Homo sapiens: one gene and its partners. The protein of the gene in region 3 interacts with the protein of the main gene of each other region in a biochemical or structural test. Each region holds a gene or a part of one and is shown on either strand. Other genes may lie near its edges.

Region 1 (7,023 bases), on a different chromosome or scaffold from region 3:
GGTGGGCAGGGCCTGGTGGGCTCAGGGGCCTCACCGGCTGCTCAATGACCCTCAGCACCGTCCGCTTGATGTCGGCGATGGCTTCAGTGTACACGGCCGCCAGTTCGTGGATCAGCTTGTGGTTCTGAGGCAGGAGGGCCAGGTAGAGGTACAGACACTGCTTCACTGTCTCCTCCGTCCAGGGTGCTGCCACCTCTGACAGGGCAGGAGCGGGCATCAGATTGGCCCACACTCTTCTCCAACCCCCTCGGACCCTCAGGAATGTCCCTTCTTGGGCAGTGGAGCCGGGGAGGGCAGAGAAGGGAGCCGGGGCTGGGGAGCTAATTGTTCTAGGGCAGGGAAATGGCGGGGACCAGGACTTCCCACCTCCAGCCTCCCGTGACTGCCAACACACAAGGCAACTAGAAGGATCTTTCTAAAGTGCGATCCTGACCCTGTCCCTCTCTGGCTCCAATCCCAGCCATGCCTGCCCTGTGGCCTCAGAATAAACCCCCAGCTCCCTGCCTCACACTGTCTGCCAGGTGTTGTATGGGGTGGCCCCGGCCCGCTGCTGCTCTGCTGCCCTCCATGTTGGTCACATACCCATTCTAACAGTCCCGAGGGCCCTGGTCTCTTTGCCTTTGCATCCACCCTCCTCTTTGCCTGGTCCACGGCACCTGCTCAGCTTCTGGGCCTCCCGAAGGCTGTGCATCTCCTGGGAATGCTTCCTGGCACCTGGGCCAGGCCTCCCGTGCTGCCCTATCATGGCCCAAGCCTTCCCATTTAATGGTCCATTTACTCGGGGTCTGAGTCTACCTGTCTGTAATCCAGGGCTCTGCTGAGGGAACCTGCCTGAGATGGCCCTGCCTGGTCCTTCCTCAGGCCCCACCGATGGCTGGCTCTCCTCGTCCTCCAGATCTCTCTCCCTGACCCCCCAGGCTGGGCCAGATGCCCCCTACCCTGACTCCCACAGCCCCCAGGTGGCTGTCCCAGTCCTGCCCATTCCCGTCACTCGTGTCCGAGTGGCTTCCCCACTCATCCCCTCTGCTCGCAGGGCCCAGAGCGCGGACACAGCAGCGCTCAGTATGCATCTGATGACCTGTGCCCAACCTGTGTCCTTGTCAGCTCCAAACAGCACAGACGGTGGGTTGGGGTGCACCAGGAGCTGCAGGTAGTTGAGGGCAAATTTCTCCACATACTCCCGCAGCTGCTCCTTCTCATACATGCGTTTGATGAACAGCAGGGCCTGGGAGCGCACCTGAGGAGGAAGATGGAGAAGGGCAGGGTCAGGGAAGAGGTAAGAGGAAGAACAGCTATTCCTGCGAGCATGGCAACACTCACGTGAAAACAAGCCCGAGGCTGAGAAGGGGCAGCCCAGCTGTTACCAGGGCCCAGGGCTGGTCCCCAGTGCAGGAGGCAGATATCCTGGCCAGGGCCGGACCCGCAGCACCACCTCACTGCCTGCCTCTCCAGCCCATCTGCCCATCACTGCTTCTTGCCTTGCTCACTAAGCTCCAAGCAGAGGGAGAGCTCCTCAGTTCCTTAAAAGTGCCACTCCCTGCCAAGTCTCCCTAGAACGTCTACTGCCAGCTAAACCCTGTTTCACTCAGATATCATCTGCCAGGAGCCGTGAGGGAAGGGTCTGGTCCTGGGCACTCTGACCCCAGCAGCAGCACATGGCCATGGCCAGGGCCAGGGCCAGGGGTGTGAGATGAAGGTCTGCTGAATGAATGAAAACGCTACCCAGCAAGGGCTGGGGCAAAAGGCTGCAGGCAACGATGGGTCAAGGGCGCTCTCAACCACAGCACGTGCACATCTGTCCCCTCTGTCTAGAGCACACCCAGCTACTGATTTTCCAGGTCTCAGCGTACAAGTCCCCTCCTTGAAAGAAGCCTTCCTTGAAACACCTCCCCTGCCCACCCCACAACCAGATGGTCGGCCCCTCCCTCCCCAGGGCAGCCACACACTGCTCTGCTCAGCTGCTGAGCACGCTGTGTCCTCACTGCTGGCTGAGGCCACACCGGCTCCCCTGCTGGGCTGGGCAATGCCCTCAGGCCCCGGCACAGGACTGGGCTGCACGAGGAGCCTGTGCTGGCCACCACGGGTGGACTAAGAGCGAGAGTGGGACTGCCCTTCCCAGGAGGGCAAGCGCACGTGTGTGTGTGTACACACTACAGGCAGACTCAGGCACGGTAACCCTGGTTTCTAGGCAGCTTGATGCCACTGAAAATGAAAATAAAACAGACAGAAATAGCCAAAAAACCACTGAAAGAAGGGAATGGGCCCAGAGAAACTTGCAAGGGAGTGTGGAAGACGTGGGCTGGTTACTCAGGATAGAGGCGGCCTCTGCAAGCTGCAGGCTGAGGGCAGCCAGGAAGTGGAGGAGGGGATCACCTTGTCCTTCTCATGGGAGCTGAGGTCGAGGAGGACATGCAGGTACTGGAACTGGCGGGACGGGCGCTTGAAGATCAGGTCTCGAAGTGTGGACATGCCCAGATAGGTGCGACTCTGCAGCAAAAGGAAAGGGACCCGAGCTCAGCCCACCTGAGTGTGCCTCTGGGCTCTGTCTTTCCTGCCTGCCTCTGATCAGGTACCTGGACAAAAGGGCCCGGTCCCTCACAAAACCCCCGGCCACAAGGTTTAGACTGTGTGCCCTTCAGACCCCTCAGGGCAGGGCCCTGTCCCCTGCCCCGGGCTGCACTGACCAGGGCCTGTCCTCACCTCATCCTCGCAGTACTTGCGGACCACCTCCAGGGCACTCTCTGTGATGAGTGGCGCCTCCAGCACAACCTTGGTGAAGATCCTGCCAGAGATGGAGGGAGGGCCATGGCTGCAGAGGAAGAGGCCGCCTGGCTCCCGGGCCCTGCTGAATTGTAGGAGCTCAGGGCCAGCAGGCCCTCCCTCAGGGGCTGCTTGTTCAAGCCCCTGCTTATAAAGCTTTGGAGGTGAACAGAACAGGGTTCAAAAGCTGGCGGCTGGATGATCTGGGCAGAGACTGCACCTCTCTGAAACTCATTTCTTCCGTTTGTCAAACAGGGATTCCTAACTTTATTCACTGAACATAAGAACGGGAGGGAATGATGGCGGGTGGAGAAGGGTGTGGGTATTTTAGATATGGTGGCCTCAAAAGGCCGCTTTGAAGTTACAGTTGAGTACACTGGTGGATGAGAAGGAGCCACCCACACATAGAGTTGAGGGAAGAGCATTCCAGGTGGACAGAACAGGAAGCACCAGCGCCCTGAATTTGACATGTTCGAGGAACAGACAGAAGGCCAATGTGGCTAATGTTCGGGGGGTAAAGCCAAAGAGATTGGGTCACATAAGGCCTCACTGGTCACAGTAAGGAGGCTGTGTTTTATCCCAAGACCAATGGAGAACCATGGAAGGTTCCTTGTGGGGAAGTAATAAAAGGATTTATATAATAAAATGTTCCTGGAGCTGCTGTGTGGAGGATAGACGAGTAAGCTGGAGGCCACGGATAGGGAGGAAGCTACAGAACCAACTCAGGTAGTGAATGGGGTGTAGAGAAGTCTATCTCCAGGCCCATGGGTGAGCACTGTTATTTACAGATGGGAAAATGGCAGAGAGAGGGAGTGACAAAGCCACGCAGAGCAAGCTCAGAGCAAGTGGCAGAGCTGAGGAACAGCTCAGGGAGTGCGACCTGGAGCCCACATGCAAAACTACAACCTTGAACGTGCCTCCAGAGGGGGAGGAGGAGAGGAGACTTGGGATGGGTGCGAGGAGGACTGACTCGGGGGGTGACGAAGAGGGAGGTGGTCGCAATCAGAAAGGGAGGGCAGCACCAGGAGAGGAAGCCTCTCGGGGACAGGAGGGTGCAGGGTCAGCCCCCTCACCCATCCTTCTGGTCTGGTTTCTCCTGCAGGCCAGACAACAGGCGGATGAGGCAGTCCTCATACTTGTCCAGGGAGCCCGAGGCACCTGCGGCCAGGTAGGCGTTGTACTCCTGGTAGAGCCAGGCGAAGGCCAGGTCCAGGCGGGCCCGCACATCCTCCAGGATGAAGGACAGGACCTCCGCCTTCAGGCCCGAGTTGAACTGTGTCACCAGGCTGGCCAGGATCTTTATGCGGACCTGGTGGGAGGGTGAGCCAGCATGTCAGTGTAGGGTGGGCAATCCAGGGACTCCGCAATCGTGCCCTGCGACTTCTCCCACCCAGACGCAGGAACTCTCAGAGCAGACAAGGAGTGAAGCGAGGAAGGCCAGCCGAGGACCCTTATGCCTAGGAAGGTCCCGTTTGTGTGTTGGGGGGTGGGGGTACCAGGGTGGGGATCGATCATCACAGAATAAAAATGAGTTTCTAGGAGCAGCACCCATGTACTTAAGTGCACAGAAAAAGATCCTCAAAGATTCCCCTCATTTGTGCCTTTGTCACCTTTGAAGAGAGGGATGGGGTGCAGGTGATGGCCACGGAAGAGTACTGGATCTGGATTCCCCGGAAATATTTTTCAGCTCAGGGAGTATGTTCCTATACTACTGGCTAATCAACAATTAACTTCACAGAATGGGGAAAAAGTCACTTTTCCCCATTCTTTGAAGGTAACAGTGCCAGCAAGTGGCAGAATCAGGACAGAGAACCAGGTATATTTCTAAAGCTAAATAGTAACAGTAAGAACGTTAACAACCGTGAAGAACCAAGACCACAAGAGCAGCCCTCACTTGCAGAGGCCTCCCAGCACCTGCCCTGTGCACCTGAGTGCCTGTGCTCATTGCACATTTCCTCCTCGTCACCCAGGAGGAGCTGCTGCTACTGTCTCTGTTTTATGGAGGATGGGAGTGATCTGGAGAAGCGGCTGTGGGCAGCAGAGCTGGGGTCCGCAGCCAGGGAGGTTTGACGCCAGGGCCAGACTCTTCGCTGGATGTGAGGTAGACGTTTGGGTAGAGGGACTGGAAGGATGGGGTGGGGGGTGGCAGGCGCACACCTGGGCTGCCCCGCTGCAGGCCACAGCCTTCTCAGCCCGCAGGATCCGCTTCACAGCGCCCAGCTTCATGGCTTCCACCTGGGCATCGGTAAGGGGCTTCAGCACGTCGCTGAGACGGAAAATTTTCTTGCGCCCACCAGCGCCTGCCAGCCTGTGTGGAAGAGCAGTGACAGAGATGCAGTGACCCAGACTGCAGCAAAGGCCTGTCTGGTGACTCTCCCAACTTCAAGGACTAGGTAGGCAACAGAGATGGCCCCCATCCCCCTGCTGCCTCTCCAGTTCCTCTGTGTCTCTGAGGCACGGTGTGGCGGTGGGTAAGAGGAAGGAAGAGGATGTTATTTTGGTTTTGCAGAGGGCGTCTTACGGAAGGCTTCTGTGAGTGGGGATCTGAACGGAGGCAGGGACAAGATACACAAATGTCTGGGGGACCAGCTCTCCAGGCAAAGGCCCTTAGGTGGGAACAGACTTGTGGGCACGAGTGGAGGAGGGGTGAGGGTAGCAGAAGAGAGCTCGGAGGGTAGCAGATCCCGCTCAGCTGTGTTAGTAAGACTTGGGGCTGGGCACGGTGGCTCACGCCTGTAATCCCAACACTTTGGGAGGCTGAGGCAGGCGGATCACGAGGTCAGGAGATCGAGACCATCCTGGTTAACACGGTGAAACCCCGTCTCTACTAAAAATACAAAAAATTAGCCAGGCGTGGTGGCGGGCGCCTGTAGTCCCAGCTAATCGGGAGGCTGAGGCAGGAGAATGGCATGAACTCGGGAGGCGGAGCTTGCAGTGAGCTGAGATCGCGCCACTGCACTCCAGCCTGGGAGACAGAGTGAGACTCCGACTCAAAAAAAAATAATAAATAAATAAATAATAAAAAGACTTGGGTGGCCGGGACTGGCTGGATTTTGTGGTGTGTAAGGGAGGTAATAATGGGGACAATGATGATGACAGCCAGTAGCATTTACTACACAACAGGAACCACGCGAAATGCTTGACAATCACAATCACTTTTCACTCGAGTATCTAGTTACCTAACCATCACCATTACCACGAACTAATTTAATTCTTCTTTGATCCTTATGAGAAAGATACTATCATTATCCTAATTTTAGACATAAAAAAGGATTTTTTTTTTTTTTTTTTACAGGAAAGAGAACAGCAAAGGCTTAGTGGTTATGGCACTGACTCGGGAGTCAGAGAGAACCTATTCCAGACTTCCTTCTGTCTGCATCTCAGTTACACACACACACGCACACGCACACGCACACGCACACGAGCTGAGAACCAGACCTTCAGGGTAGGGCTCCTGTCCTGCCCTAGCACCCAGAAGAGGACTCACCGGGGCTGAGTGACAGGGATAATGGGCTCTGGCCTCCTCTTGGCCTGCGGTGCCTCTTCCTCCAGGGGGGACATGGAGCTCAGGGAACCCACCACCGAGATGGCTTGGCCCTGGGCTGACAGGCGCCGCTTGATCAGGACGCTCTCTGTCTTCACCACCTTCTCCTCCTTGGGCTCCTCCTTGCACTGTTTGGTCTGCTCTACACCTGAGGGGGAGGCAGCAAACAGACACCCAGTGCGTCAGACCCACCTGCTCCAACCCGAGGACCTCCTGTGTGCCTGGCTCTGTTCTGAGCCCTGTACACACAAAACCTCGTTTAAATCCACACAACACTGTCCTGGAGTGGGTACTCTTTTTATCCCCACTTTTCAATACAACTGAGGCTCAAACTAGAAATGCCATTCATTGCTGGGGGGAGCAGCAAATGCTACAGCCACTTTGGAAACATGATGAGCAGTTTTTGTTTTTTAGACTGGGTGTCACTCTGTCACCCAGGCTGGAGTACGGTGGTGCAATCAGGGCTCACTGCAGTCTTGACCTCCTGGGCTCAAGCAATCCTCCTGCCTCAGCCTCTCAGCCTCCCAACTAGCTGGGACTACAGGCGCATGCCAACATACCTAGCTAATTTTTGTATTTTTTTGTAGAGATGAGGTCTCCATATGTTGCCCAGCTTAGTCTTGAACTCCTGGGCTCAAGCGATCCTCCCGCCTTGGACTTCCAAAGTGCTGGGATTACAGGTATGAGCCACTGTGCCCAGCCCTCAGCTGTTTTTTTTG
Region 2 (7,023 bases), on a different chromosome or scaffold from region 3:
TCGATCTCCTGACCTCATGATCCACCCACCTCGGCCTCCCAAAGTGCTGGGAGTACAGGCGTGAGCCACTGCGCCCAGCCTTTTTTTTTTTTTTTTTTTTTGAGACAGAGTCTCACTCTGTTGCCCAAGCTGGAGTCCAGTGGCACGATCTCGGCTCACTGCAAGCTCTGTCTCCCGGGTTCACGCCATTCTCCTGCCTCAGTCTCCCGAGTAGCTGGGACTATAGGAGCCCGCCACCACGCCCCGCTGATTTTTTTGTATTTTTAGTAGAGATGGGGTTTCATCGTGTTAGCCAGGATGGTCTCGATCTCCTGACCTCATGATCAGCCTGCCTTGGTCTCCCAAAGTGCTGGGATTACAGGCACGAGCCACTGCGCCTGGCCATATAATCTTTTTAAGGTTGTATTCTATTTACCAAATATGTAAAACGATAAATAAGAGATATCTTTAAACTAAACACCTGAGCCTTCTTCTGACAGGAATGAATGTGTTTAACGGTGTTTAGTAAAAATAATAACTAAAGGGTACACCCTTCTGCCTTACCAAAGGTGAGCTCCTATGGCTCAGTGCCTAGCTCACTTTAGGCTAGTCACCATTTAGATGTTACTGTGATAACTGTGTAAATGAATTCCTGTAACACTGTAAATGTAAATGAATTCCTAATGACAAATCCACATCTGTTTTTGTTCTTGTGGGTTTTGTTCTGTTGAGGTATGAACCCAGCTGTGCACCTGTGTGGGTTTATATTGTGCTAGCTCACTTCAGTCCAGACACCATCTAGATGCCACAACCCCTTTCTAGTGTTGTGCTAAGGGGTGGTTCACAACACTAGTACAAGACACGTTTTGCATTTAATACAACCCCCACTGCAGCACTCTCAGTTTGCATTTGGATTCTCATAAACTGCTTTCTTCTGTAAACATAAAGCCTTAAATATAGGACAGTGAAAAAAGTCTTCACTACAAAGGATGTCTTAGAAAAAAGCAGTGGTAATTAAAATTAGGTTTTAATGTTAGTGGTTTTAAAGTATGTTCTAAAACAATTTACACTCAATAGTAAATGACAAATAGGTCATTTCCCAAGATAATCCCAAGCCCACGCAACTAAGTAAGGAAAAATCTAGGTGCTTTTAATATAGACACAATACTATGTGTGATGAATTCTAATATGTCAATCTGGCTAGGTACTGCCATGAAGGGATTTTTCAGGTGTAATGTCCCCAAGTCAGTTGAGGGGAGATGGTCTTGGGAGGGCCTGGCCTAATCAGCAGAGCCCTCTGAATGAGAATTTAGGCCTTCCCTGATCTCACACTCCCCAGTAGCTCAAAATCTTCCCTTCCTGACCAACTGCCCTCTGAAATAGGACTTGCTTAGCCAGCCCCTGTAACTGTGTAAATGAATTTCTTTTGACAAATCCACATCTGTTTTTGTTCTTGTGGGTTTTGTTCTATTGAGGTATGAATCTACCTGTGTGCCCGTGTGGGCTTAGACACAACTATCAGTACCAAATTCTCTTATCAGTCAGGGTTCAACCAGAGACACAGAACCAGTAGGAGACACAAACCCACGCAGGCACAAGAAAGGAGAACAAACCAACACGAAACCCAGGGATGAGTAAACGGAGGGGAGCAGCAAGCACAGGGAAAAGATGACTGGGAGTCAAGAAACTTGGGGTTCAGTCCCAGCTCTGCCCTGTCATTTTCCCTCACCTGTAAAACTGGATCAGAAATCTTACAAAAACAAAAAACAAAAAACCTCTTCAGTATTTCCCTCAAACAGGATCCTCCTCACATCTGTATTTATATTTAAAAAATAAAAACAGAAAAGAAAAAGAACCAGCATGACATCATTAGGTGTGTGTACAGAAGTGAAGACTGATGATTACCTATCGATGAGGGTCCTTGTGGTTGACACTGTCTTCCGTCAAAACCCTGTGATGTTAGCATCTTTGTGAATGCAAAAACTATGTACATCTAATAGCAGACTTTAAAAACAAAACACACATCCCAGAACTAAAAAGTATGTACAATGCTGAACCACTAGAGCCTACAGAAATCATATATTACACTTAAATTATTTTTCTTCAAAATATATTGAACTGCACGGGATTAATATGCTGCATCCTATTTTTAAAAGCCAGGTGAAATAGCTTACTTTGAAGAATAACTAGAAAAATTTGATTGATTCTGAGAATGCGCTGGCTTTGCAGGCTCGGAGAGATGGCTGGCGGCAATGTGTGCAGGAGGCTTATTCTCAAAACTTCTTCGGTCAAAGTATGACAGCTGTTTTCGATAATATTCTTCATCTTCTTCAGGGTCATAATGATTGGACCGAACAATATCTTCAGGTGGCTTCAGTTGAGGTTTTTGAGGTTCTGGGATCCTAACAGATAATGAATGACAAACGGAACACCTTTTTAAATATTAATGTTATGAAGGAAGTAGAATATGTAAGTCTTATCTTGACTAAAAGGTCAATAATTACTAACTGCTGTGATTACTGAGGATCTGAGCAGTCCCAACAGTTAAAATGGATATTTCAAATCCCATGTCCTCACAGAGTATACTCAAAAGGCAGCCCCCTTCTGGCTCATGAGTCCTTTAACACAATATAATAAGCTAAACGATTACATGATTAGGGAACAGCAGGTTAGAAGTAGTTAATCAGAAAGACAAAGGGCAATGTAACCGAGACAGTGAACATCTTGAGAAGTACATATACCAAGGTCAAGAACAGTAAATGATAGACTTTAAGAACTTTCAAAGGGATTTTTAAGAACTCAGTCCAGGATCTCAATGATTCTCATATGAACAAATAACTCTATATGGTCTAAAGTTCTAGAAGGCATACAAAGCAGATGAGGAAGAAAGCAAGTCATTAAGTAAATTCATATTAGACAGTTCTCTTCTTTATCCTAAGTGCAAACATATATTCAGTCAAAAAACAAAATCAGAAGAGCTGTATTCAAATCTAATCTGTCACTTATTGGCAGTGCAATGAGGCCATGGGAAAAAGCTCAGGCTGAGGAGCAGCAGGCCAGGTTTCTCTTCCAGCTCTAAGTCTTGTAAGCTACTTGCCCCTCTCAGCCTCAGTGTCTCTCTCTACAATGCAGAACAACAACAGTGTCACCTCATTATGCTGATGTGCTTAGCACAAGGGCAAGCACCTTATGCATGCTCACTAAATGATTTAGTTATCTTAACCAATCTGAGTCTGTTTCCTCACCACTGGAAACTAAGAGTTCACATGTCGAAAAGCACTTTTAAAACTAAAAAACATAATACAAATGTCAGAGCTTAAAAATGTTTATTTAATCATCTGCTTGGAGAATATCTTTCCGAAAGTCTGCTAAAGGTATAAAGATTTGTCAGATTTGTCAGAAATAAAGTTCTACTTTTTTTCCCCCTAGAATCACTGTTTAGGAGAGCTGATAGTTTTTATTTAAGGACAAACTCCTCCTATTCACACCTCTCCTCTACTAACACAGTAAAAGGTTTTCTTATTGACTAAGAGGGTTAAATTCCTGGTCAGTTCTATGCCACAAAGAGCACAAAGTGTACTCACCTGTACAGAGTTTTGTCATGTTCACTGAATTGATTCTGAGAAGTGGGTTTGGGACCAATGATGGGAGCACCTGAAGGTTTAGATGCTACTTCTGGAGGCTGTTTAAAAAAAAAAAAAAAAAAAAGACAAATATGCCTAAGGAACAGATAATTAACAGAATAGATATCATGTAATGGCGGAGGGGAGAGCCAAGAAGCCTTTTAAACGGTGTGCCCATGCATCCAAGGCACTAAAGACATATTTACCTTAAAACTGCCAGTGTCATTTACATCCTTCTTGGTCTCTAAGGATGCAGATCTTTTGTTTTCAAACATCTTAACTCTGGTGAGTACAGACTGTGGCTTCATTGCTGGATCTTCCTCTTCTTCGGTTTGAGTTGGGGGTGGAGGCAGTGGTTTGGTGTTTGAAGGCAGAGCTTCTGGCTTATGCTGAGATGAAGGTATCAGCGGAGGGACAGCTGCAGCACCATGGAGAGGCTCAAAATGACCTGCTCTAGAGGTAAATCCTTGGGGTGGTACTTGCTCGTAACTGCGTGAATATTGCTCAAAATACTGCTTGGACTCTGCAGGCTTGGGCCCTGCTGAAGGGTGGGGCTGGGCTTCCGGTCTGAGTCTACCATGTGTGTCATACCCAGGAGCTGGCTGCTCTTCGTGCCGCAGGGCGGATGCTCTAGGTGCCTGTTCGTAACGTGGTCTGCTGTCGTAAGACAGAGGGGCTGGCTCTTCAAAACGTGGAAAGTACCCTCGTTCTGAGGACTCTTCGGGATGCTGTCTGGAGTCAAGGTCTTGAGAGTGCTGATTATCAAAAGGTGGCCGAGATGGGTAGGGCTGTTTGTCATCATAATATGACCACTGTTCTTCATACATGGGGACGCGATCTTCGTATCGCAGACGATGTTCATAGTTTCGAGAAAACTGGTCCGTATAGCTTGAGGACTCGTATCTGTATGTGGGCTGCTCGAGGTCTCTGCTGGCTTGTTTCTCTACGTATGGGAGTTGGGGTTCATAGGTCAGATTAGGCTCTTTGTCTGGCCTGTGCCCTGGGTGACTAACGGCTGGCTGTTTCAAAACATGGTTCTGCCTCATCATTTCCTCGGGATATGGATCCTTTCTATACACCTGTATAAAAAATTCACATTTAAGGACAAAGTCTTGTTTCTAATTCTAGTCTATTTTATTAGACTGTGATTAAATATTAAACTACGATTTAATATGTGAAAATGGTATGTTTTACCATTTATTATCAGGATAGACAAGATTAGTGGAAAAAGCTGGTTTAAGTGAAAGCTCAAAATTTATAATGCAGGTAGGGGCTTTTATGTTTCAGCATGTACTAAATAAACAGTGAGTTAAAGATAAATATTAAATTTAGTAGAAAATTAATGCACTATTGATTACACTTCATTTTGACACTGAAAAATCCTAAAGAAGATTTATGGGCATCATAATTTGTATTAACATAAATATGTTTATGATGGGTTTCGATTACATATTAAGGAATTCTGGAAGATACTGAAAGCCAAAAATAAAAATAATAAGCACAAATCTCAATTAAAAGGCCTGTTTTCAAATAATCAGTATACCAATGGAAGCCATGCAAACTACGAAACTGAAATGATTTGTATTGATTTGAAAGCATTACAGTGTATAAGCCTGCAGTAAAAAAGCAAAAGGAACACTTAAAGGGCAAAGCAAAAATGATCATGTGCCAGATTGATGGACAGCAACAAATTAGTGCAACACCGCAGCACAGGTACCTTTGTTGGATCTACATGCGACGACAATGATGGTTCTTGATCTCTTAGCATTATGTGAGCTGCCTCAGTACTTGGTGTTCTTAAAGAATCAGCTTGTGGTGAGTAAGAGGTGGAAGGAGCTGGGGTGGGCTCCTCCAGTCTGACATTAGTTAAATTTACATTATGATTAACAGCAGAGGTTGATGATGCTGGGTTTGTTTCAGGCGAAAGGTAAGGGACTGGAGATGAAGCTTCTGCTTTCTGTGAAGTGTTTAAAATATTTTAAATATAGTGTTTCTGTTTACTGCTAACTTTCCACTTCAATTTATAGTGATTGGTAGACATACATTTTAAGTGTGCTGAATAACAAAATTATGACCTCATGTCCTAAACTTTTTGGGAAAAAAAAAAAATCCAGTACATTGCTGTGTTAAGACAAACACACAAAATTTAGAATTAAGCCCTTGGTACTCTCAAATTGAAATTGAAGATTAATTCTTAATCTGGAGAAAGGACAACATATATATTTTTAACTCAATCACCACATTCTAAAATTTAATAATGCACCTCTATCTACAAAACGTTGAATGCTTGCTGCTTACCTGTTGAGAGGCTGGCTTAAATCCAGGGGAGTCTATTCTATGAATTGGTTGTGGCTGCGCTTGTGGTGAGTAAGGAGGATATGTTTGGTTTTCATGATGCATTCCAGAGGAGTCCTCTCTTACAGGCTCAGAGGACCGTGTAATGGCAGACTCCGGTGGAGTCCCAACCTCATCATTAAGAGTTTCATCTAGTTCTTGATCAGTGTAGGCCCCGCCTTCTGTGTCTGTGTCTTCATAGTCAGAAGTGTGTCTACTGTCCGTGCTATACATTGAGTATTCACTACCTGGAGCTGACAGGTAGGACAGACGATCATCATGCAAATCAAGGTCATCACTTGTAGCACCATCCGCCTGGGTCAAATAAAAGTAAATTACAAATTTTATTCAGTAGTTCTTTAAGAGATGGCCTTTATCGTACAAGGCAGATTGAAAAGGATATCTTTCTCTGGAGAAGTCACATCTACTTCTTGAAACTTCTGGTAAGGAAAAGTCAAGAAGATTGTACAAGCACACACGCAGACACATGGAGCACCCCTTGAGATCTGAAGGGCATGGATGAAGGAAACAGTGGCCGGTAAGCCAGGACAAAGTTAGACTCCAGGGCCCAGCCCTGGAAGACAACGAAGAAACTCTGACACTGCTCAGATTTATAAAACCTACTCACTAGCTCTTCAGCCCTTTTAAGCAAGGGGAAGAGGGAGAATGTTACCAAACTAAGCTCACAGAAACAAGGACACACTGACAGAATAGCACATGGAAGAATACCTATGAAATAAACCCAACAGTTCAAAAGTTGAATAAGAGCTAATATATTTATGTTTAGGAAACAACTGATATGGTTTGGATTTGTGTTCCCACCCAAATCTCATGTTGAATTGTAATCCCCAGTGTTGGGGGAGGGGCCTGGTGGGAGGTGACTGGATCATGGGGGTGGTTTCTAATGGTTTAGCACCATCTCCCTCACACAGTCTTGTGATAGAATTCTCCCAAGATCTGTTTTTTTAAGTGTGCAGCACCTCCCCAACTCTCTTCCTCCTGCTCCAGCCATATAAGACATGCTTCCTTCCCCTTCCGCCACGATTGTAAGTTGCCTGAGGCCTCCCCAGAAGCAGAAGCCTGTACA
Region 3 (7,968 bases):
CTTGGGAAAATACTTTAGCTCTCTTTGTTGGGGGAAAGAAAATCCAAAACAAAAAAAACATGTCTTTATATCTCCAAAGTTATGCAGTCTACACTGATGAGGCATTCTCCAGCTTTAATTCCAAAGATCTCTCATCTCTCCAAAGGAGAGATCAAACCCAGGCCATCTTACGTTTGAGGCCACTCTGATTGGAGCAGCAAGGCAAAGGAGAAAAAAACAGTTGATGTTTTCGATGCAAATGTACACAGTAGAGGCCTGTTTTTGATACATTATATGCATTTAAGTCAGGCAATATTCCAAATAATATGCGTTTAGTGCCTCTTTTCATTTGCCCAAAAAATTAATTACCTGGGAAAATATAAAGACTGGAACTGTTTTTAATATCTAGCATTGTTGAAGGAATAATCTTGATTAAAATGACAATACTAATAATAAAGGAAAAAGATGATAAATAATTCTCAGGTCTAACCTCAATCCAAGCTGAAGGTTATTTTTACTCTCCAATGTAGTTTAAAAAAGTTTCGTAATTCCGCAAATACTTCTCCAAGGACTTCTTATGATCAAATTCATTCCCACGTCTTGCTTTAAACCATAAACCCACTTCATATACACTAAGGGGAAGGGTTGGGGAGGAAGACCATAGATTTCCATAACATTTATCAGAAGGAAAATTTTTTTGCACTCATGAAAACTATTTTTCCTGGCCTATGTGCTTATAAACTCAAGTGAAGGCCCATTTGCAAATACTAGAACATATCCATTTTAGTCAGCATTGTGCCTAGTACATCTTAGGCATCTATGTGTTTGCTTGGCAAAGGAAAGGGGATGGCAGGACACACTAGACAGAGACAAACAGTGTTGAGGTGTCACGTAGAAAGGGCTGTCCTTCATTTTTAGAGAGACGCAGTAAGAGTGGAAAGATAAAAGGCATCAGACTCATCACCAGGGATCTGCAGAGGCAGTTGCTTGAGGAAATTAACCTTCATTTATCTGTTTCCTTCATCTTTAAAGATAGTATCTGCTTTCCCAATCTCAGAACAGTACAGGATTAAGTGAAAAACCGCAAAAGCTTTCTACAAAATAAGGTATCATTAACAATGTTATCCTAACACTGCTTTGGAGAACACAAGGTTTTCTCTCTCAGACATCTGGCAGAAAGTGTTCCAAGAAATATTTGCTAGAAACAACATCACAATGTACTACTGACTAGATTTAAGCAACTTTTAGTCCAGCAAAATCAGGCCTATTTTGTTTCTTAACCTACACAGGTTACAATTAGCATGTTGTTTGGTAGGGACTTAGTAAAAGCCCTAGAAAAAAAAAACAAGAAAATAGTCCTCTCAAGGTGGGGAATATTGAATACACTTCTCTCACATTGCTCCCTCAACTTTCTTCCCAAAGGGGAAGTAGGGCTCAGAGAGATGAGACAAACATGCCCCACCCCAAATAGTGAAGAGGTCTCCGAAGCATCCTACACCATCTGTTAACGTTCCTGTTTATAAGAGCGAACGATATGGACACACACCCTTTAGGGAGGTTATTCACCACCCACCTGCTTTGCAAGCGTTTAAGAACTCACACAGGGGCGTTACTTACGAAAAGAACGCTTGTTATGTGACTAAACCAACAACCATCACAGAAACCCTTTCCATCCACTGCCCCCCCAAATCTCAACATTTCATCTTCCTGTTTCCCTTCCTACGTTACAAGTGCCAAGGTAACAATGTTTTGAACTAACGTCATACCCCCACTTCCGACAAAGTTTTTTCAGCTGCTACACCACGTGCGTTCCCACAGTCCGGGAAGAGGGAAGCGTGTAGCCATTGGTGGACACTGAATGGCTGTTTGCAGCCGTGGGCACAGAGAGGGGGAGGAAGACGTGGGACTAAGACCCAAGTTTCCCGGAGACGATTGCAACATCTCTTTGCTGGCATGTGGCCAACAGGAGCATGGCGTCTTTCCCATGCCCATGTGGGAAGGGCGTCAGGGACAGACACCTGACCCTTCCTGGCAAGAAGCTTTTCTATCTTTCCCTCCCCGTCTCCTTCTAGCGCCCTCCTCTTCCCCAAAGGAAATGCTCTCCTTTCCCAGATCCCAAGCAAGGACCCCAAAGCGCCAGGCCCACGTGTCGGTCCTTCCCCTACATCCATCCCTACCCAAGGTCCCCTCTCCCAGACTGCCTCTCCTTTCTTCTCCAAACGCAGGCATTTTCCACCACGCGAATCCGCAACAGTGCCCGTCTGGGAGACAGAAGTTAAGACCTAAACTTTCTGGCCCGGAACCAGAAGGGAGATGCACACGGCCGCCAGGAGCGCAGGGCGCAGCGCGCTCACCTGGGAGCGCCGGCAAGGGAGGCGGCCAGCGCTGGGGACCCGGAGACCCCTGGGGACCCGGAGATCCCTGGGGACCCTGTGCTGTCAGCGTCTCCAGCCCGGGTGGGAGATGTAGCGCGAGCTGCCCACACGTGCTCCGCGGCCGGCTGGGCCCGCCCCACTACGGCAGCCCCTGCCCTCCCTGGCCTGACTCACCGAGAACTTTTTTCTCCGCGTCTTCGCTGCCGGCGGCGGTGGCTAAAGAGGCGGCGGCCGCGGTGCCCGTGGCTGCGGGGGCCGCGTCCCCACCGGGGTTTCCTGCGACGTGGGCGGCGGGCGCCGGGGCCGCGGCCTGGGGCGCACCGCTGCCCACCGGGCTCTTGGGCGCGGGGTCCTGGGGAGCCGCGGCGGCCGCCTCCGTCGGAGCCTGCGGGAGGGTGGTGGTGGTGGTGGTGGTGGCCTCGCCCGCCTCACTCATGCCTCCTCCTCCTCTGCTCTCGCTCAGGCGCCTCGGTGGCGGTTGGTCGGCGGTTAGCGCGGCTGGTGGTCGCGGCGGCCGGGGCTCGCTCTCGGGGAGGCCGGGGCGGATCTCGCGGCGCAGGCGGCGGCGGCCGAGGTGGGGTCGCGCGGCGGAGGCGGCTCGAGCTTCGTGCTGCGCGCTCTCTCTTGGGCTCCTCGCTCGATCTTACTGCCCCAAAAATGGCCCCGCACAAGTTTTTCTAGGCGGCGCACCGGCCCGGGAGGGAAGGGCGGGCGAGGGGAGAGGGTGGGGAAACTTGGCTCGGGAGTCGGGCCCTGGACTCTCATTAGCATTTAAAGGCGCCCGGTGCGCTTTCTATGGCTCCAATCCGCCGGGACGCGAGCGCGCGGGTCGCGTTGCAGAACCAAGGAAAGCCAGGGTGAACGGGGCGCCCGGGTTGTCTTCTGGAGCGTTCCGAGGAGCCCGCGCTGCTGACCCTTTGTTGGAGCGGGGTGCATTGGCTCTCCTCCCTCAACCCGTCTTGACACCCGCAGCTGACAAGGAGAGGTAAAATAGGGCACCCAAACTACTCTGCGCTTTACCCTCTCAAACACTTGTTTTTAAATCCTTTGCATCTAGTCAGTCATTCAACATGTATCAAGCACCAGCAGCTATTCGTAGCACAGCTGTTAAGACCTGGAATAATAAAACCTTAAGACTATTTGGCAACTTACTCCTGAAAGGTAATATACGGATAATTTCATCTGTAACACGCAGATGAGGAAATTGACCTCACAGATTTAATGTAAATTCAGAGTTTACACCAATTTAACCGCAACAAATAAGGAGCTGTCAATATATATTTAATAAGGAACACACACAAAAAAAGCTGAATAAATCCACTTCCTACCTTCTGCTCCAGTTGCCTCTGCCAGCTGGTGAAAGCTTAAGGAACTGAGCCCTCTTAGCCTCGAGGATGAGAGGTATAGAGAAACAGATCACCCAATAAACATTATTCCCAAGTTGAAGAGCCCACATGCCCTTTGAGAATGGGCTGGATGGTAGTAAACACAGGGCCAGAGGGTCTGGGATCTGTACCCAAAGACTGTCTGGAATACAGGACTATTTGGCCCCTAGGGTTCAGACAGACTAGGTATAAATTCTGGCTTTGTTTTTTATTAACCAGGTTAACTTGGGACAGAGATTCAATGTCCCAGAGTCGGTTTCCTGCTTTATGAGAGGTTCTCAAAGGTGACATGAAAAGTAGATGAGATTATCATGTGTCACTCCAGTGTCCGGTCCACCTAAAGCTCCTTTGTTTTGTTTGTTTTTTAAGTTATTGCCTGTTCCCTCAAACAATTTACCAAATTTTTTTCCAGGAATATGTCTGTAATGTCGATGTCTACCTTAACATCAGTAGGGTAACTATCAAGTGTAATTCATCTTTGTATCTCCACTGGTTAGTACAGTACGTAGCACAGAGTTTGGACATAGTGAATGTTTACAAAATGAAAACAGACCAAATTCTTCCAAACTCAATTACTTATCTGCACATTTGCTATCAATTATTATGAAACTTTCCTGAATTCTTACTTTCTTATTTCATCCACAAAAAACACAAAGAAAATAAGTTATTTGAAAAAATAGCAAATTATGTAATTTTGAGCTTTTCTATGTAATTCATCAATATTTAAAAAATTACAAACTCTTAAATGTTAGATTCATATTTTAGTTTGACTTCAGTATGGAGCATACAGTGATGTTATATAAATGTAGATGCTTTTAAAATGCTGGTCTAATTCTAAGAATGATTAAATTATTTCTTCATGTGAAAGATTATGGTCTTAATTACAATTAAATTATAAACATGATTTATTCTGGTGAGGACTGACCATTGACTTTCTTATTCAGCAAAATGATTATCATTGCTATTTACCTTTCAGAATTACATTACAAGAAAAAAAAGTAAGGAGATTGAACTCTTCAAACCGATCCAACAGTAAAGCCTTTTAAAAAAATTCATCCTTGGAAGTAATTCATAACTAACAGGTGTGATCTCCAACCTCTGGAAGACCCTAAAATAATTACAGATGCACCCTGGGATTTCCTAGAATTTGTGCTGGACTGGCTTCCAAAACTACTCATCATTGTCATCCAAACAAAGCAGTGAGCAGCTGGAAGTTGTTGGTATTGTACTAAATAAATCTAAAGAAAATTAGAACAAATATGATCTATGTTTTAATAATCATAAGTAGGAAGCAACTTGGATACAGATACACATAAATTTATCCATTCCTTCATTCACTAATTCATACACTCATATTTGCTAAGCAAATGCTATGTCCCGGACAAAGTACACCATTGTGAGTATCCAATGTTGACCAAAATGGAGCCGGTTGTAAGGTCTTTTGATATGATGTTAAAATTATTTTTCACTATCAACATTTCTATTGTAAGACAATATCATCATTTACTAAGTTTAAGAGTAAGTCAACAAAGAATTATAATCTAATTGCTGACAGCAGTCATTTTTAAGCAATTATTGGTTTGATCATAAAAACAAATGCCACTCTGTTCCTAGTATGGAGGAAGTTAAAGCTCTCACAACTGTTGGAAGGGCTGAAGGAGGGAAACTCAGAGAAGCTCCACTGAAGATCTCAGCCTCCAGTCCCCAAGACAGTGGTTCTCAGGAGTTCTCCTGAAGCCACTGGAGCCACAAGATCTTTCGGAAGTTCTCAGCAATTCAGGGCTGGATTCAGGTTTTGTGATGCTTAAAACTAATACAATTTAGAGAGCCCTTTTTGAGATAAAATAAAGTTATGAATACTAAAATGCTAGGACTGCTCCCAGAGTCTTCGAAAGGGTCCGTGCAAGACAGGAGCCCTGAAATTTAAACTTCATTAGCTTTACTCCTGCACCTGCTATCTCAGTCAGCAACACCGATGCAGTAAGTCCTCAAGAAGTTCATCTGGAAGCAGCTTTGATGCCGATGCATCTTTCTATAACTGACTCTGGTATATAATGGTCTTCTCTTCTTCCTTCTAAACTTTGAGCGAAAGGCTCTCATTGTTAGATTCCAACTTGGAAATATACAGGCCGGGAGGGAGATTCTGGGAAATGTAGTCTCTGCATTTGAAGAAGCTAAAGTTGATGCTAAATTGACAGGAGGCTATCCAGCATATCACCCTAAGGAAGAAAATGCAATTAATTGACTAAGGAGATTGAGGAGAATTCAAGTTATTCAAGGGACTGGAGCTTAAAATAAGGAAGCTTTGTGTATTAGCATATTTGAAACTGGAAAACAGTGAAGTATTAATCTCAACTTAATTGATACAAAAAAGAACATGAGGGAAATGGTCAGTTTGGAACAAAAAAGTGCAAGAATAAGAGAGTAAAGGTATTTCAGGATGTCTCCAGCAATGTTCAGGGGGAGAGTGGACCTTGGTTATCACGCTCTGTTTGGCACTCAGTAGTAATGCATTCAGCACATTTATTAATCATTGCAATTTGGTGCTAAGAACATCATGCAAAACAGGCAGGAATGCCCCTGTATTGAATGAATTAATGGTATAGACCCATACTGTCCCATTGGAAATATAATTTGAGCCCCAAATGTGAACCAAATATTTAATTTTAAATTTTCAAGCAGCCACAATAAAACAGTAAAAAACAGATGAAATTAATTTTAATAGATTTTACCTAACTTAATCAATATAAAATATATATTATTTCCACATTTAATCAAGGGTAAAACCATGAATGATGTATTCTACATTCCTCTTTTTTTTTTTTTTTGGTACTATCTTCAAAGTGTGTATCTTACACTTCTAAGACATCTCAATTTGAACTCACATTTAAAGAGTTCGGTGTGGCTGATGACTACCATATTGAGTAGCACAAGCCTTCTAGACAATTAGAAGTTTAACCTGAATAATTCTTCAGGATTCCATTGGGAAAAAGTCCTGGGCCTGAAAGCTGGACCATACATCAGTCTGTGGCTACCCAGCAAGATAATGCTACCTGTTGGGCTGGTTTGAGCTTCCTTTGTGACATATAATATCCAAAGAATTTACATGAACCATAATGCCATAATTCTGAATAACTCTATAATGATGTCACTGATGATCTCTAGGGCATGTAAACAAAGTGAATTTACAATATCCATTCCCTGTCACCACTGCCTTTATGGACTATGCTTCTTCTTTAACTTTCACATATATTGGCCTACCATAATGAAGATGTATTATAGGATTTCTTCCTTTTCATTAAGAGAACTGAGAATATGGTGGGGAATTGGCTGTGACTTTACTCTCCCCTATGGGAAGCTGGATTTAGAGTTCAGAAAATGTTGCACCTCTAGACCTGAAATTATTAAGCAGGAGGAAAAAAAAAAACAAGCGATTACTGAGAAGTTTTGAAAAACCTGATTATTTCAGCATATATTGATTTTATATAAAAGTTCCAGCTTCTAAGTGACTTTGTTGCATTTGTTTTGCTTCTACTTATTTTCTTAACTATTTAGATGTGTTCTTAGTGTTTAAAGACTAGGAGATTGGTACAGTTTTGGTGGAAGAACTTGACAAGATTATCTGATAAGTAAGAACTAGAAAGAAATGTATCCATCTCAACCCCACTCATTTTAAAAACAAGGAATTGCAGTTCAGAGATTAACTGACTTTCTCGAACTAATTTATGTATTTAGTGGCAAAGCTAGAACCAAAACCTGAGTCTCCTTATACCCAATTCAGCGCCCTTGCCACCATAAAATTCTGATTGACAAAATGTCAATGCTGTAGCATTGAGTCCCCTCAAAAATAAAGCAAGGCAGCACTTTGGGAGGCCGAGGCGGGTGGGTCACTTGAGCCCAGGAGTTCAGGACCAGCCTGGACAGCATAGCAAAACCCCGTCTCTACAACAAACAAACAAAACAAAAACCAGCAAAAATTAGCTGTGCTGGACATGGTGGTGCATGCCTGTAGTCCCAGCTACTCAGGGCTACTCAGGAGGCTGAGGTGGGAGGATCACTTGAGCCCGGGAGGTCGAGGCTGCAGTGAACCATGATCATGCCACTGTGCTCTAGCCTGGGTGACAGAGTGAGATCCTGTCTTAAGAAAAGAAATAAAGCAAGGCTCTCTGGCCACTGAAGGTAATGTTCAGATCTTTCCAATTAGGACCTCTGGAGAGGAAACCAAACAG

The links. Proteins that work in one complex are often made in the same cells at the same time.
Region 1: the proteins of YBX3 (region 3) and SYMPK form a complex in vitro, tested with the Homo sapiens proteins (one study listed by BioGRID).
Region 2: the proteins of YBX3 (region 3) and TJP1 form a complex in vitro, tested with the Homo sapiens proteins (one study listed by BioGRID).

What each region holds. Positions count from the first base shown.
Region 1 is NC_000019.10:45,825,137-45,832,159, forward strand, and holds part of SYMPK (symplekin), read right to left. Parts: intron 6,453-7,023; coding exon 6,248-6,452; intron 5,069-6,247; coding exon 4,918-5,068; intron 4,070-4,917; coding exon 3,834-4,069; intron 2,783-3,833; coding exon 2,701-2,782; intron 2,488-2,700; coding exon 2,374-2,487; intron 1,238-2,373; coding exon 1,090-1,237; intron 196-1,089; coding exon 35-195; intron 1-34. UniProt on the Homo sapiens protein: Scaffold protein that functions as a component of a multimolecular complex involved in histone mRNA 3'-end processing. Specific component of the tight junction (TJ) plaque, but might not be an exclusively junctional component. May have a house-keeping rule.
Region 2 is NC_000015.10:29,714,458-29,721,480, forward strand, and holds part of TJP1 (tight junction protein 1), read right to left. Parts: intron 6,252-7,023; coding exon 5,901-6,251; intron 5,560-5,900; coding exon 5,320-5,559; intron 4,682-5,319; coding exon 3,809-4,681; intron 3,662-3,808; coding exon 3,564-3,661; intron 2,382-3,563; coding exon 2,154-2,381; intron 1-2,153. UniProt on the Homo sapiens protein: TJP1, TJP2, and TJP3 are closely related scaffolding proteins that link tight junction (TJ) transmembrane proteins such as claudins, junctional adhesion molecules, and occludin to the actin cytoskeleton.
Region 3 is NC_000012.12:10,720,322-10,728,289, forward strand, and holds the start of YBX3 (Y-box-binding protein 3), read right to left. Parts: upstream 2,791-7,968; coding exon 2,529-2,790; intron 1-2,528. Other genes in the region: uncharacterized protein LOC124902876, read left to right, coding at 2,789-3,339, 4,716-4,785. UniProt on the Homo sapiens protein: Binds to the GM-CSF promoter. Seems to act as a repressor. Also binds to full-length mRNA and to short RNA sequences containing the consensus site 5'-UCCAUCA-3'. May have a role in translation repression.